2 separate regions of the Homo sapiens genome follow, and region 2 is linked to region 1. A link means that fine-mapping ties the variant in region 1 to the expression of a gene that starts in the linked region. Tissue or cell type: Th17 cells. Region 1 holds a variant in brackets; the other region holds the start of a gene. All regions are shown on one strand. Distances are from middle to middle.

Region 1 (8,102 bases):
GCCCTCATCTTGGGGTTCATCCCCACTGACTGTTCCCAGCGGCTGCCGTGGTGACAAGTGGAGGTGGGGGAGGGCACAGTCATTACAGAGTGGGGCCCTGCAGAGCTGTGCCCCAGAGGTGGCCGCGCAGCATGGCCTGTGTGGCTGCTGGGACCTCTGGGGAAGCTGCCCCAAGGCCGAGGGGTGGCTGACAAGACGACCCTTTCTGAGAACCTACCACCCACCTGGGCGCTGTGGGACAGTGCCTGAGACTCACCTGGGACTGCAGGCAGCCTCCCCCAGGAGGAGGCTGGAGAGAGGCCAGAGTCCGCAGGGTGAGGAAGGCGTCCCCAGCGCTGGGCAGCGGGAAGGGTCCAGAGGAGCCTGGAAGAGATGGGAGCCGGGGTGGGCAGAGTCGTGGCGCCTCCTCAGGTGGAACCCACCCAGCCCCTCAGCCGGCAGGAGGCCTCGAATGTGGCTCCTGCCCCTCCTCAGCATCCGGCCTCTGCTCCTCAGCCCCCACCCAGGCAGGCCAGCGGGCCCTCCCCACCACACTACTCATGTCCCCTCATGGCTTGTCTTTTTTTTTTCTTTTTAAGACAGTCTCGCTCTGTCACCCAGGCTTGAGTGCAGTGGCACGATCTTGGCTCACTGCAAGCTCTGCCTCCCAGGTTCACACCATTCTCCTGCCTCAGCCTCCCAAGTAGCTGGGACTACAGGCGCCCACCACCACGCCCAGATAATTTGTTTTTTCTTTCTTTTTTTTTATTATTATTATACTTTAAGTTTTAGGGTACATGTGCACAATGTGCAGGTTTGTTACGTATGTATACATGTGCCATGCTGGTGTGCTGCACCCACTAACTCGTCATCTAGCATTAGGTATATCTCCCAATGCTATCCCTCCCCCCTCCCCCCACCCCACAACAGTCCCCAGAGTGTGATATTCCCCTTCCTGTGTCCATGTGTTCTCATTGTTCAATTCCCACCTATGAGTGAGAATATGCGGTGTTTGGTTTTTTGTTCTTGCGATAGTTTACTGAGAATGATGATTTCCAGTTTCATCCATGTCCCTACAAAGGACATGAACTCATCATTTTTTATGGCTGCATAGTATTCCATGGTGTATATGTGCCACATTTTCTTAATCCAGTCTATCATTGTTGGACATTTGGGTTGGTTCCAAGTCTTTGCTATTGTGAATTGTATTTTTAGTGGAGATGGGGTTTCACTGTGTTAGCCAGGATGGTCTCTATCTCCTGACCTCGTGATCCGCCCGCCTCGGCCTGGGATTACAGGTGTGAGGCACTGCACCCAGCCCATGCCGGGCTAATTTTTTTTGTATTTTCAGTAGAGACAGGGTTTCACCATGTTGGCCAGGCTGGTCTCAAACTCCTGACCTCAGGTGATCCACTCATCTTGGCCTCCCAAAATGCTGGGATTACAGGTGTGAGCCACCGCACCCAGACCTTTCATGTCTTTTCTTATTAGTATCGCCATTCTGTCCCCAAAGCACAGGTATCTGTTGGTTGGGATCATGGCCAAGAGGAACAGAACTCTCACAGTTGAAACAGAAGAAAGAGTTACACAGAGTTGACCACTGGGGGAAGGGAGATGTGGTCCCACTGTGGCCTCCCCAGATGCAGCTCAGTGGCCGTCCACATGGGTACAGATGACTGTCCCTGGGCCAGCCTCACTCACCGGAGCTAGGTGTTGACAGGCAGCTGGCGTGGTTCCCTGGGACCCCAACTTCCGTGGTATCCACAGCCGTTTTACCCGTGTAAATGGTAGCCTCTTCTTGAAACTTCCCCATGTTCTTTTTATACCGGATTCTTTTGTTGCCAAACCAGTTAGAGACCTGCGGACACACAGGAGTCACTGGAGGAGCTGACCCAGCGACTTCTGAGACACGACGCAGTCTGTGGGTTCCCTGGGGTGCCCGTTGCTCCCACTGCCTTAGAAGACAACACTGCACCCTGGGGCTATGAAGAGTCTGGGACTGAGAAGGTGGCGCCCTCTGAACCACGGACCCAGGGAGATGTCCACATGGGTTGAGGACACCCTGGAGCTGGCGTGTCTTAGAACTCTGCTGCCTAAAACTGGATGTTGCTGGAACCTGAACCTGGGAAGGGGCTGGAAGGAAAACAAGACTGTCTGAGGTGGGCCGGGAGGGACAGCGCCTCTGGCTGCCATGCAGCAGGCGGCAGGTTACGTTCCGTGTTCTCTTCAGGAAAAGTGAGAGCCAGGGAGACCTGGGGACCCAGTAACTGCGATCGAATCCCAAACTTATCAAATGAAAACAAGGTGAACTCTGAAGGGGTAGTTGGAATGTACCAGGTGCTAGGATAAGCACTTCTCATATATTCATATATTTTTCTTAATTTTAATTAAAAAAAGGTTTTTTGGCCGGGCGTGGTGGCTCACGCCTGTAATCTCAGCACTTTGGGAGGCTGAGGTGGGGGGATCATCTGAGGTCAGGAGTTCGAGACCAGCCTGGACAACATGGAGAAACCCCATCTCTACTAATAATACAAATATTAGCTGGACACAGTGGCACATGCCTGTAATCCCAGCTACTCGGGAGGCTGAGGCAGGAGAATCACTTGAACCTGGGAGGCAGAGGTTGCAGTGAGCCAAGATCGCACTGCAATTTAGCCTGGGCAACAGAGTGAGACCCTGTCTCAGAAAAAAAAATATATTTTTTCTTTTTTTTTAGAGATAGGGTCTCGCTCTGTTGCCCAGGCTGGTCTCAAACCCCTGGGCTTGAGAGTTCCTCCCGCCCTGGCCTCCCAAAATGCTGGGATTCCAGGCCCAGCCTCATATATCATTCTGCCTCATCCTCATGAGGACCTGGGAGGCAGCTGTTATCGTCCCTGCTGTAAGAAAGCAGAGGCAGGAGAAAAAGGAGCTAGTCCATGGCCAAGGTGGAATCAGCCCAGCTCTGACTGCAAACTGGCACTGGAGTCCCCCAGGGAGGGGCTTGTCACCTTTGGTGGCACTGCTGATGCTTGGGCTCCATCTGCTCTGTGGGGGCTGTCCTGTACACTGCAGGGTGCTGAGCGGTATCCTTGGCACCCACTGGGTGCCAGGAGCACTTCCCTTCTCTAGTCGTGACAACAAAAATGTCCCCTGGGCAGATTCACATGGGTGAGCACCCCAGGGCCAGCGCCTTCCTACAGGCATGGAGACGTCCATCCAGGGCCACATTTCAGTATCCCAAAGCAAGTAAAATAAACGTATAGTATAATAACACACAGAAATGAAACAGCTGAGGGATGGAAGAGGATTGTGGATGACCTTTGCTACTTCAAACATTTTTTTCTCACTCTGTCACCCAGGCTGGAGTGCAGCGGTGCGATCTCAGCTCACTGCAACCTCTGCCTCCCAGATTCAAGTGATTCTCTTGCCTCAGCCTCACCAGTAGCTGGGACTACAGGCACGTGCTACCAAGCCTGGCTAATTTTTGTA[CT/C]TTTTTTTTTTTTTTTTTTCGGAGACGGAGTCTCACTCTGTCACCCAGGCTGGAGTGTGGAGTGCAGTGGTGCGACCTCAACTCACTGCAACCTCCGCCTCCCTGGTTCAAATGATTCTCCTGCCTCAGCCTCCCCAGTAGCGGGATTGCAGGCATGTGCCACCAAGCCTGGCTAATTTTTGTATTTCCAGTAGCCACGGGGTTTCACCATGTTGGCCAGGCTGGTCTCGAACTCCTGACCTCAGGTGATTCGTCCGCCTTGGCCTCCAAAGTGCTGGGATTTCAGGCATGAGCCACCATGCCTGGCCAACATTTGGTGTACTTACATTATCCTTGCAATGTTAAGTATAAAAAGAAGGATCCCTGTCTGTGTGCTCTCTGTTCCAAACATAGTGTCTGCCTACCCCGGGGGTGTGAGCAGCCTTCTCTTGATCCACATGGGAGGCCCCAGAGGCTCCATCCTGGTTGAAGCAGCCCTGGTTGTCCTCCAGACAATTGTTCCTTGGGGGCCAAATGTCTCACGCTTCTCCAGGGGCCTTGAAGACCCAGAGGCGCAGCCCCTTGCTCCAGCTCTGGCCTTGTTTCTGACACCACAGCAGATCCCGATGAGCAAAGTCATATGTGACTATGACCTCAGGATGTTTTGCTGCCTGCGTGACCCCGAGGGGTTCCAATTGCTCTCTGTCACAGAGACTTGACTGGACTTAGCCTGGGTTGGAGCAGAGCATGGTGGTGAAGGACTAGAAACTCAGCCCCTCCAACTGCAAAGTAGGGAGGGCTGTGGTGACATGCAGCAAGCCATGCTGTGGGTCAGCACCTGCCATTCCTGCTGCCATAGAGGCTGTGGGGCTGTGCCTGCCCAGGTGGGAGGGCGGCACCCAGGCCCTGTTCCACACACTCATGCTGCCACGGGGGTATGGCCTGGACCTGGCTTGCTGCCATAGGCTGCCTGGACTTACTGTTTCCATGTTAAAACCTTCGGAAATATTTCTTAGCCTCTTGGTCTTAGTGTCTCCCTCTTTCACCCCCAGTTCCACAGAGGACACTGGTGGCTGCCTACCAGGCTATAGAGTCAGGGAGCTCACACTCTCTACCACGTCACCTCAGGGGGCTCACACTCCACAGCATCCCCCAGGGAACTCACACTCCATCTCAATCACCTCAGGGAGCTCACACTCCATCTGTATCCCTCAGGGAGCTCACACCCCACCTGTATCCCTCAGGCAGCTCACACTCCATCTGTATCTCTCAGGGAGCTCACACTCCATCTCTGTCCCTCAGGGAGCTCACACTCCACCTCAATCACCTCAGGGAACTCACACTCCATCTTTATCCCTCAGGGAGCTCACATTCCATCAGTATCCCTCAGGGAGCTCACACTCTATCTGTAACCCTCAGGGAGCTCACACTCCATCTGTATCCCTCAGGGAGCTCACACTCCATCTGTAACCCTCAGGGAGCTCACACTCCATCTGTATCCCTCAGGGAGCTCACACTCTACCAGTATCCCTCAGGGAGCTCACACTCCATCTGTATCCCTCAGGGAGCTCACACTCCATCTGTAACCCTCAGGGAGCTCACACTCCATCTGTATCCCTCAGGGAGCTCACACTCTATCAGTATCCCTCAGGGAGCTCACACTCCATCTGTATCCCTCAGGGAGCTCACACTCTATCAGTATCCCTCAGGGAGCTCACACTCCATCTGTATCCCTCAGGGAGCTCACACTCCATCTGTATCCCTCAGGGAGCTCACACTCCACCTCAGTCACCTCAGGGAACTCACACTCCATCTGTATCCCTCAAGGAGCTCACACTCCATCTGTATCCCTCAGGGAACTCACACTCCATCTGTATCCCTCAAGGAGCTCACACTCCATCTGTATCCCTCAGGGAACTCACACTCCATCTGTATCCCTCAAGGAGCTCACACTCCATCTGTATCCCTCAGGAAGCTCACACTCCGTCTGTATCCCTCAGGGAGCTCATACTCTGTCTGTAACCCTCAGGGAGCTCACACTCTGTCTGTATCCCTCAGGGAGCTCACACTCCATCTGTATCCCTCAGGGAGCTCATACTCTGTCTGTATCCCTCAGGGAGTTCACACTCTGTCTGTAACCCTCAGGGAGCTCACACTCCGTCTGTGTCCCTCAGGGAGCTCACACTCCACAGCATCACCTCTGGGACCTCGCATTCCATCTGCATCGCTCAGGAAGTCCTCAGGTCTCTCTGTGGGTACACTTGCACCCCTGCCTCACAGATGAACGGGGAGAGCGCTGGAGTCCCACATTTGTAATGCAGAGCCTGGATCTGAGCTGGCCTGGCTGACTCAGAGCCTGGAGACTTGGCTCCTGTTCCACACTTTTTTTGTTTTTCAGAGATAGGATCTCACTCTGTCACCCAGGCTGGAATGCAGTGGCGCCATCATAGCTCACTGCAGCCTCACCCTCCTGGGCTCAAGTGATCCTTCCACCTCAGCATCCGAAGGAGCTGAGACCACAGGTGCACACCACCAAGCCCAGCTAATTTTTTAAATTTTTTGTAGAGACAGTGTCTCACTATGTTGCCCAGGCTGGTCTCGAACTCCTGGCCTCAAGCGACCCTCCTACCTCATCCTCCCAAAGTGCTGGGATTCCAGCAGCCATGCCTGGCCTCTGCACACATTTAACAAACTTCCCTGGGTGTCCTCATGGGACCTAGTCATCCACTCCTCCCAGGCGTGGCGAGACGTGGCAGGAGAGAACGTCACCTGGGAGATGGTGAGGCCGCCCTTCCTGGCCAGCTCTTCTTTGGCTTCTTCGCTGGGGTAAGGGTTGTTCAGATGGGAGTAAAAATACTCATTCAGCACTTCCGTCGCCTGCTTGCTGAAATTCCGCCGCTTGCGCCTGCAAAAACAGCCGCCTTCGTAGGCATTAATATGCTGGGACTCCAGTACCACCCCCACCTCTAGTTCTGAGTATGATTTTCCAGTAGTTCTGAAAACAGCAATCACTTGAGGTCAGGAGTTCGAGACCAGCGTGGTCAACATAGTGAAACCCCGTTTCTACTAAAAACACAAAAATTAGCTGGGCATGGTGGCGGGAGCCTGTAATCCCAGCTACTCGGGAGGCTGAAGCAGTAGAATCGCTTGAACCTGGGAGGCGGAGGTTGTGGTGAGTGGAGATCGCACCACTGCACTCCAGCCTGGGCACCAGAGTGAGACTCCGTCTCAAATAAATAAATAAATAAATACAAAATAAAATAAAAATGAAAACAGCAATACTTCAGGCCTTCTTCCCAAGAGGCTGTGAGGCCTCCAACCGTGACTGCAGACACAGCCTCCAGGGCTGTCTTCAACCCAAGCCAGCACTATTTCCCTCCAGTCCCTCAGAGCCGGCCCTTGAGGTTTTGGGTACGTACAGGCCCTGACCTGGCATCGAGCAGCCGCGAACGCAGGGTCATCACTGCCTCACAGGTGCTCTGCTTCAACTGCATCTGGATGGCGCTGAACTTGCCGTGAATGGCGCCGACCATGCGCTCAATCTCCTTAGGGGAGACAGGCCTCATCCTGCTCTGCTCCTGGAGGAGGTTGGTGACGTGCGTGGTGAACTCACGACAGGCCTGGGGTGGGAGCACAGACACGCCGGCCTGTGACTAGGCAGCAGGGTGGCACAGGGCAGCAGGTTCCACAGCGGAGCAGCCGCCTGCCACCCCCTGTAGTTCACACACCGGCGGGTGACTGTTAAGTAAATGGAAAGGGCTTTCAGTAACAATGGACCACCTCTGCAGCGACCAACTGCATGGACTCCCTGTTCTGCGCCACGAAAGAAAGGTGGTTAGCGTTCCGTGTTTCGCTTTGACAAATGCGCATTCACATGACAGAAACTCTTCCATGCAGAAAGATCACCTGTTCATATTTCTCTAGCTCAGAGTGGTAAATCTGTCGGATCTGGGACAGCTTGGCCCTGTAGTCAGAGTGCTCAATGCTATTGTCATTTGGACAGCCACCTGGTGTTGCTGTGCCGGCCCTGGCCACCGCTCCTCCTCTTCCTCTCTTCTCGGGCCTGCACACGCCCTCAGCCAGCAGCATGTTATCCAGCCTCAGGAGCTGGGCGTCAGGGGGATCTTCGTCTTGAATGCCACGGATGCTTACCACTAGATAAGAGAGACCGGGACAAGTCACAATTCATTTTCTGGAGAGAAAACAAACCATGAGAAAATGTGAGCACTGGTGTTATGTCTGAAGATTTTTGCATAGAACCCTTCGGGAGAAAGGAATACTCCACTTTATCACCAAATTGGATGATGGACACTGAGCACCCCGCTAAGACATGGGTCCAAGTGCCATCCTTAGAGCGCAGTCTGGGGAGGAACGGGGAGACACAGGTCGCAGTTTGGCATAGCCTGTGAGGGCAAACCTTGGTCACAGCTGTGTGCACGCAGCAGGGCCAGGCAGGCGCCTGTTGCTGGGGTCACCTGAACCCCTGAACCGAGTCTCAAGAAGTGCTGGGGAAGAGGGGGCACCCAAGATGCTGCATACTGATAAAGGCAAGTGGCAGGCTGGCATTGGCAGCGTGGCTGGCCTGGGCCCAGGACTGTGCAGCTGTAGGCCTGTTGTGGCTGGTGGGTGGGGTGTGTGTGTGTTGGGGTGGGGGTGCTGTTATAAAACTGGATAG
Region 2 (8,102 bases), 76 kb after region 1:
ACAATTTCTTCTTTTTTTTTTTTTTTTTGGTTGGCCAGGTGTAGTGGCTCATGCCTTTAATCCCAGCACTTGGGAGGCCAAAGTGGGCAGATCACCTGAGGCCAGGAGTTCAAGACCAGCCTGACCAACATGGTGAAACCCCGTCTCTACAAAAATACAAAAATTATAAAGATGTGATGGCACACTCCTATAGTCCCACCTACTCGGGAGGCTGAGGCAGGAGAATCACTTGAACCCGGGAGGCAGAGGTTGCAGTGAGCTGAGATCATGCCACTGCACTCCAGCCTGGATGATAAAGTGAGACTCTGTCTCAAAAAAAAAAATAAATAAATAAATTTTTTTTGGTAGATAAAGACAGGGATCTCACTATGTTGCCCAGGTTAGTCTCGAACTCCTGGCCTCAAGCAATCCTCCACCCTCAGCCTCCTAGTAGCTAGCACTGCAGACATGTGCACCAGGCCCAGCTAATTAAAAAACTTTTTTTTTTTTTTTGTAGAGACAGGGGGTCTCACTATGTTGCCCAGGTTGGTCTCAAACTCCTGGGCTCAAGCAATCCTCCCTCCTTGGCCCCCAGAAGTGCTGGGATTACAGGCATGAGCCACCGTGCCAGGCTGGACCCTTTTCTGAGTCAGTATTCTCCTCCTGGGGTCTTCTCCAGACCTGCTCTCCCCGACCCCTGAGTCCAGAAGTCTCATGTAGTCACCCCATCCTTTCTGCTTGGAAGCAGAGACACCAAGGCTTTCCTCCTGAGAACACTCAGCACCTCGTTCCCCTCCCCACAAACAAAAACGAAGTTTTTGGCTGGGCGTGGTGGCTCACGCCTGTAATCCCACCACTTTGGGAAGCTGAGGTAGGTGGATTACCTGAGGTCAGGAGTTGGAGACCAGCCTGGCCAACATGGTGAAACCCCATCTGTACTAAAAATACAAAAATTAGCCGGGCGTGGTGGCAGGCGCCTGTAATCCCAGCTACTCAGGAGGCTGAGGCAAGTGAATTGCTTGAACCCAAGAAGCGGAGGTTGCAGTGAGCTGAGATCGCACCATTGCACCCCAGCCTGGGCAAAAGAGCAAGATATTCTGTCTCAAGAAAAAAAGTAAAGTGAAGTTTTGCAATTGCACAGGAAGCCCAGCTTGAATCTTTGCTGGGTAACCTTGGGCAAGTTCCCAAGCATCCCCGGGCCTCAGCTTCCTCATCAATGAAATGGCGACGTTGGTAGTGGTGCCTTCCTCCCAGCTTGCTGGGAAACGAGGGGATCAGGCCTGAAGGACAGCAGGATAGCAGGGTGACCTCTGTAACATTCCACCCTGCCCCCCTCACCTGGTAGTAGTCTCTTTTCTGCTGGGCCACTGTCTCCATGGCCAGGGTTCCCAGGCTGAGATCGTGCTCCAGAAACAGGGTGTAGATGTACTGCAGAGGCATGTGGCTCTGGGGAAGACAGAGTGGTGTAGGAGGATACTGAAGATCTGTGGGGGACAAAGGTGGGGTTCTAGGGGGCTTGGGCTCTCCGGGGGGGTCTGGTCATGACTACCTGCTGTTGAATGGACACCTTGCCAGCTTCAGCGATCTTCATGGTGCTCTTAGCAAACTCCAGCTCTGGGGGAAGAGAGAGCCGGGCTCTGGGTCTAGCTGGGGTCTGGGGACTGCCTGGTAACTGGGGCTGGGCGGAAGAGGTCCTCACCATAGCTGGCTCTCTTTTCAGTCCAGGCAAGCAGTTCCTTGGCATAGCGGCTCCAGGTCTTGGCATATTCCAGGGCTGCGTCCACACCCCCCTTTGTCCGAATGAGCCGCAAGTCCAGTTCCTCCCCTGGGGAAGATGGATGGACCTCTGACCTTTGCACCCTAGTCTGCTATGGATGTCTTCCCTAAGCCCCCAGACCAGCCCAGTGGCACCTGTCCTACAGCCTCACAGCTCCCCAAACACTACTTTGGGATCACTTGTCCTGGTTGCAATTTTACAGATTCACTGTTTTTTGTTTTTTATTTTTTATTATTTTATTATTTATTTATTTATTTTTGAGACTGTGTTTCGCTCTTGTTGCCCAGGCTAGAGTGCAATGGCGCGATTTTGGCTCACCAAAACCTCTGCCTCCCGGGTTCAAGCGATTCTCCTGCCTCAGCCTCCTGAGTAGCTGGGATTACAGGCATGCGCCACCATGCCCGGCTAATTTTTTGTATTTTTAGTAGAGACGAGGTTTCTCTATGTTGGTCAGGCTGGTCTCGAACTCCCAATCTCAGGTGATCTGCCCGCCTCGGCCTCCCAAAGTGCTGGGATTACAGGCATGAGCCACCGTGCCCGGCCTGTGTTTGATGGGTTTTTTTATTTTTATTTTTGAGGCGGAGTCTCGCTCTGTCGCTCAGGCTGGAGTGCAATGGCCCTATTTTGCCTCACTGCAAGCTCCGCCTCCTGGGTTCCCGCCATTCTCCTGCCTCAGCCTCCCGAGTATCTGGGACTACAGGCACTCGCCACTGCGCCCGGCTAAATTTTTTTGTATTTTTAGTAGAGATGGGGTTTCACCATGTTAGCCAGGATGGTCTCGATCTCCTGACCTCGTGGTCCACCCGCCTCAGCCTCCAAAGTGCTGGGATTACAGGCGTGAGCCACTGCGTCCGGCCTTGTGTTTGATTTTTTTGGACATGGTCTTGCTCTGTCATCCAGGCTGGAGTGCAGTGGCACAATCGTATCTCACTGCAGCCTCAAAGTCCTGGGCTTAATCAGTCCTCCAGCCTCAGCTTCCAAAGTAGCTGGGACTACAGGCACACACCACCACACCCAGCTAATTAAAAAAATATTTTTTCTTTTGGTAGGGATGGTGTCTTACTGTTGCCCAGCATGGTCACGAATTCCTGGCTTCAAGTGATCCTCCTACCTCAGCCTCCACCCTGCCTGGGGTCTCCCTGAGGGCTGGGACTGAGATCTGTTGTGTGTACTGCCATATTCCCAAAACCTAAACGATGCCTTGCATGGAACAGGGGATCAGTGGTGATTTGTTGAAGGAAAGACTCCTGTCTGTCCCCACTGTCCTGGCCTCCAGACCCCCCTACCTGTGAGGGGTACAGGACCCTCTGGGGAGGGGCCGCTCCAACAGCTGGCTTCGTTGGTCTGTGCGGGAGGGAGACAGTATTCAGAAGCAAACAGGGCAGGGGCCTGGCCTTCCTAAGGCCCCCTCTGCTTGAGGTCTTCCTCCCTGTTCCCCTACTCCCCACTCACAACAGTGGCTGTAGGGGTCTTGTCAGGTTCTGGGTCTTCTGAGAGTAGAGGGTCTCCAGCCAGCATCTCAAGGGTCCTGGGGGATAAAGGTGTGTCAGGATGCCACCTTACACCCAGTCTGTCCTGCCAAGGGGTGCTGGGGACCTTAGGGTTGTTTGTGGCAAACATCACCTCTGTGGCATCTCTTGTGTCTGGGAGGTCTGAAGAATGGTGTTTTGGGGGAATCAGGTGAGTTTTTTTTAAATAGGACTTGAAAAAGCATCTGAAGGGCCCCAGATAACTTTGAGGTTCATAGAGTGGGATTATAGGGATCGCAAATATTTTAAGGGGTTACAAGGATATGTAGGGGTTCTAGGACCACTTTGGGGATTTCCAGTCTATTTAGGGGGACACTTTTAGGATACCGAGGCATTTTGGAGGGTCCCATCCTAGACTTCTCTGGTTATTAGGTATGTAGGTCCAGATGTTACAGGTTCCAAATGGGACTGCAAGGCACCTAAATGGTTAGGGGCTTGGGGCATCTTGGCAGGATTTGGGGGTGATCCAGGCTCAGACTCACACGTTCCCCAGTGAGATTTCGAGGTTGTCCAGGCTCCGGAAGATGTCACTGTACCTCTTCCTGCCCTCAGGACCTGGGGGGAGTCCTAGGGGAGGGGAGTGTAATACATGGGCTAACCACTGCCTCCCTCCACCCACGGCACCTCAACCAGTCTCATTTGGAGGGGGTGGAAGAGAAAGGGAAGAGTGAGAGAGAGAAAGAGAGGGCTGGGGGGGGCTTGGTTGGGGCCAACTCGAGGCAGGCAGATGGACTCACACACCACCAGAGACCAGAGACAGCTGCTCGGGGAACAGAGACACCCACTCCCTGGGTCTGCCTGCACCCAGAAGCAAACCAACAAAACAGATGCCCCAGATGCAACCAGGCTGTCCCGAGAAGAAAGCCGGTCTGACAATGGAACCACGGGCTAGACAGATGGAAATACACAAGGGACAGCCAGGCAGAGCCTGGGGCAGAAACACACATGGAGAGACTGAAGCCGTGAGGGACATAAAGACCGAATGACACTCCACATACACAACACAGACACAAAGACGGCCGGAAACACCAAGTCGGACCCCGCCACATTTCTACTGCTGCCCCCCTGCCCCCTCTCCTAAGGGGCCTAGACCAGCACTGCCGACTCCCCAGGGCTACAGAGGGGCCCTGTGGGGATCCTACCGCGTTGCCCTCTCCCTCAGCAGTCGTGGCACCCTGCCCCCATCACAAAAATCAGAAGCAGAAGCAGTCACTTCCCCTTCCTGGGCCCCCTCCCCCAGGCGTCTGGGGTGAGGGATCAAAAGGGGGAGGGGGAGTGAAGGGCTGGGGTCCTGAACCCATCCGGGCACAGGGCTCCCCACAATGGAGGATCCCTGGGTCCTTCCCATTCAGGAACTCCTCTCCTGGCTCTCAGGACGGAGCGGGACAAGTGTGTGCCCTCAATGTAGGAAGCAGGGGATGGTCGGGGGAGGCCCCTCCCGGATCCCCGACCCCCTACCCGGCTCTGCTGCGTCCATATCTGGGCCCGGGGATCGCTCTGCAGGGACCGGGATGGGGATGGGGTCGCGCGCCGGCGGGGCCGAGCCCCGATTTCCTGCCGCCGCAGCCGCCGCCGCCGCCTCGGTTCCGCGTCGCCCTGCCCAGCGGAGGCCACGCCCCCGCATCAGACCACGCCCCCGTAGCCCGGAAGCCTTGATAGTGCCCTTCTCTACCTGAGCCGCTTGAAACTGGGTCGGGCCAGGGCCCCCTGAGCGACCACTCGAGGCTGCAGTGCCCCTGACCTGGGCATCCTAAGACTTCATCTGGGCCATAGGTTCCCTCTCAGATCTTTGTGCTACCCCAAATCCCACGGAGCCCCAGCCCCCTCCTCCCTGAATGGTTGCAGAGTCCACCTGTCCCGGGGGGCCTCTCCCAGGAGCTCCCACAACCCGCGACCCTGGTGATCCCCTTGCCCAGGTTGTCTCTCGGAGCCCTGAAACCACCTGGGCCTCGCTGGAGCCATGGCGCCCCCTGGTGGAGGCCTGATATTCTGTCCGATTCCAACCAAAATTCTAATACTCGGGCTGGAGAACCCCTGGCCTGGGGGACGCCCCTTCCGTGACCCTCAAAGCTGGATCAGGCTCAAGGCCCCAATTACAGCACACCAGGGAGCAGCCCTTTTAGGTAGGGAGTGGAGGTTTGTCCAAAAGCACCAGCTCTGGGGTTGCCACAAGCCGCCTGTTATAAAAATGCTCCCACCCCCAGCACAGTGGAATTTTGGGGCTGGAAATAGACTTTAAAGTATGTTTATAACTTTGTGTCCAAAGGCTTTGGCTGTTAAGGAGGCAAGGATTCTCTGACTGGCTCCGTGCTGCCTACTCTGCAGTTCTTGAGTTGTGATGAGTGAGTCCATTGAAAGGAATAACACTATCAACCTAAGAGCCAAGCCAGGTTTCCAGGTCACATCCTGGCTGATGCTCAGCCAGAGCTCCCTGACTGTGACATGAGATGGTAGAGCAGCGCAGGCCCCCAAAGAGCATGACAGAGTCAGTACTTGTTTGTTTTTCTTTTGAGTTGGAGTCTCGCTCTGTTGCCCAGGCTGGAGTGCAGTGGCGTTATCTCGGCTCACTGCAAGCTCCACCTCCTGGGTTCACGCCATTCTCCTGCCTCAGCCTCCCGAGTAACTGGGACTACAGGCACTCGCCACCATGCCTGGCTAATTTTTTGTATTTTTAGTAGAGATGGGGTTTCACTGTGTTAGCCAGGATGGTCTCGATCTCCTGACCTTGTGATGGGCCCGCCTTGGCCTCCCAAAGTGCTGGGATTACAGGCTTGAGCCACCGGACAGAGTCAATACTTGTAATGATGCAGATCATATTCCTCAAGTCTCAGACACCACCCGAGAGAAAGGCATGCTGTTATGTATTATGGGAAAGAAAAAAATATCACACATCCTAAGGCTTCTCTCAGCACCTGAGTTGTTAAAATGTGAAAGAGACCTCAGAAATATGGGGGTGCTTGTTAAACTAGAAAATATGCACTGAATTCTCTGGGCAGGGACAAGTCCATGTTCAAGTGCTGAAAGTGCCAGAGGGTTTCACCAACATCACACGCCTGTGGGGAGGGTGCTGGGACCTTCCTCAGTGACCCTCTGTCCCCGAGCCCCCAGCAAACACCGTGTGGCACAGACGAGGTGGAGGCAGGGCTTTTTAAAATCTCAGATGCTGCTTTATTTACCAAAGGTGCTGGCTTGGGGCTGGTTCTGCTGGCCAAGCCAGCGGATGGCTGTGGGGGTCCCAGCTCAGTCTTCCAAGGGCGAGACTGTACAGCCTTGCTGTGGGGGGTTGGGGGCAGGGTTCCCTCCCGGGGCCCTGTTGGGGTTCCCGCCCAGCGGCAGCCAGGGTGGGCAGTGGGTACCAGCACTGCCATCTCAGGAAGGCACTTTCAGCTTCGGGGTCCCCAGGAAGAACTGCAGGACGCGGTCGGCCAGGAGCGCCAGGCAGAAGTCCAGGAGCAGGACCTGGGCAATGACCAGCTTGAACTGTCGGGGCAGGGAGGGATGGTGAGCTGGAGACCTGCAGCCCAGCTCAGGGTCACTGCCATAGGAGGGACCCATCAAGCTGAGCCCCAGGGTCACCTCCACAGGGCCACTGACCTCCACAGGGATGTCCACGAGGCCAAACTGGCTGTTGAAGTCGGGCGAGGAGCCGAGGAGCAGGCCAATGATGGCCAGGAGTGAAACTGCCAGACTCCACACCAGGGGCTTGTTCTCGGGCAGGCTCTCCATGAAGGGCGGGCCCTGTGGGGATGAGGGACAGATGGCTTCATGGGGTGGGGCTGGGTGGGCAGACAGTGAATGTTTGGGCAGGGCCCAGGCCTTACTTTGTAATTGATGGCGAAGGTGGCCATCTGCATGGCCATGGCCATGATGTAGACGGTGCTGTTGACCAGGCTTGGCTCAAACTCCTTGTACAAGTCCACGAACTGCTCCTGCCTGCAAGGACACATGGGAGTCAGGGCCCCCTCTCCTGCTCCGGCTCACACACACTGTGTGGCTTCCTGCTGCCCTGGCACAGAGCTAGGGCTCTGCCTGGCCTAGTGCCCCTCCCTGGACACCCTGGACAACCCCCAGCCTCTCCTGCTGAAGTCTGTGGAGTCATCCTCCTGCTATTCTCAGCTGCAGGGACATCACCTCCTCCAAGGCAGCACTTACTTCTCGGGGCTCCGGGCCTGGGCCTCACGGTACAGGTAGACAAGGCTCAGGAAGTGCACAAAGAACTGGAGCATGACGGTGAGGATGGTGTACAGGTTGAAGATGTTGGGCAGGGGCCGTTCTCGGGAGAGGGTCTTGAGGGGCTGCAGCAGCAAGGCGGGTGGGGGAGTCAGGATCTGGCTCACTTGGGGCCACCCTGCCCACACAGCAGGCAGTAACATCCCCTGCCTCCCGGGAGACCTTGTGTACAGCCACCACCAAATCCTGGGGGATTCCATGGGTCAGCACCAGTCCCTGGATCCCTGCCTGCCTCTCACCCCTGAGCCCAGGGCTGCCTCCCTGGCCCCGGCTCCGCCATCCAGGCTCCCCATGGCAGCCACAGGGGCCTGAGAATCATGAAGCAGATCCTGCCCTCCCTGGAGCCCACGGGACAGGCACAGTCCCGCCCAGCCAATCTCCCACCCCCTCCAGCCACCGGGGACTCCCTGCGTCAGCCCATGCCTGTTTGGGGCCTTTGTGTCCAGTTCCTGGCCGCTGGCCCCCCTGGTTCTTTACGCCTTGGCCTGAGTGTCGGTGTCGCACAGGCCTCCCCAGCTGTCCACCAGCCTGTCCTGTGTAGCCTATGACCCACTTAGTTGTTTTTTTACCCTCTTGATGATTGTTCC

Evidence for each region. PIP is the estimated chance that this variant, and not a neighbour inherited with it, causes the effect.
Region 2: it holds the start of GMIP, and the variant in region 1 is fine-mapped to the expression of GMIP in Th17 cells (Schmiedel 2018, PIP 0.92).

The regions. Positions count from the first base shown.
Region 1 is chr19:19,563,253-19,571,354 of GRCh38, forward strand. PBX4 (PBX homeobox 4) reads right to left here. Exons shown (of 8, transcript NM_025245.3): 3 at 7,334-7,581; 4 at 6,857-7,047; 5 at 6,197-6,332; 6 at 1,681-1,837; 7 at 257-363. Among named protein-coding and RNA genes, the nearest start is that of CILP2, 29 kb to the left of the region's middle. The variant CT/C (reference allele first, on the strand shown) is at 3,448.
Region 2 is chr19:19,638,768-19,646,869 of GRCh38, forward strand. It overlaps GMIP (GEM interacting protein), which reads right to left and starts at 4,890. Exons shown (of 21, transcript NM_016573.4): 1 at 4,744-4,890; 2 at 3,768-3,852; 3 at 3,209-3,284; 4 at 3,043-3,100; 5 at 1,679-1,804; 6 at 1,529-1,593; 7 at 1,318-1,425. The coding sequence starts at 4,762. ATP13A1 (ATPase 13A1) reads right to left here. Exons shown (of 26, transcript NM_020410.3): 23 at 7,438-7,580; 24 at 7,107-7,218; 25 at 6,880-7,023; 26 at 6,431-6,765. The coding sequence ends at 6,655. RefSeq lists enhancers at 3,767-4,722, 3,944-4,103 and a silencer at 4,734-4,983.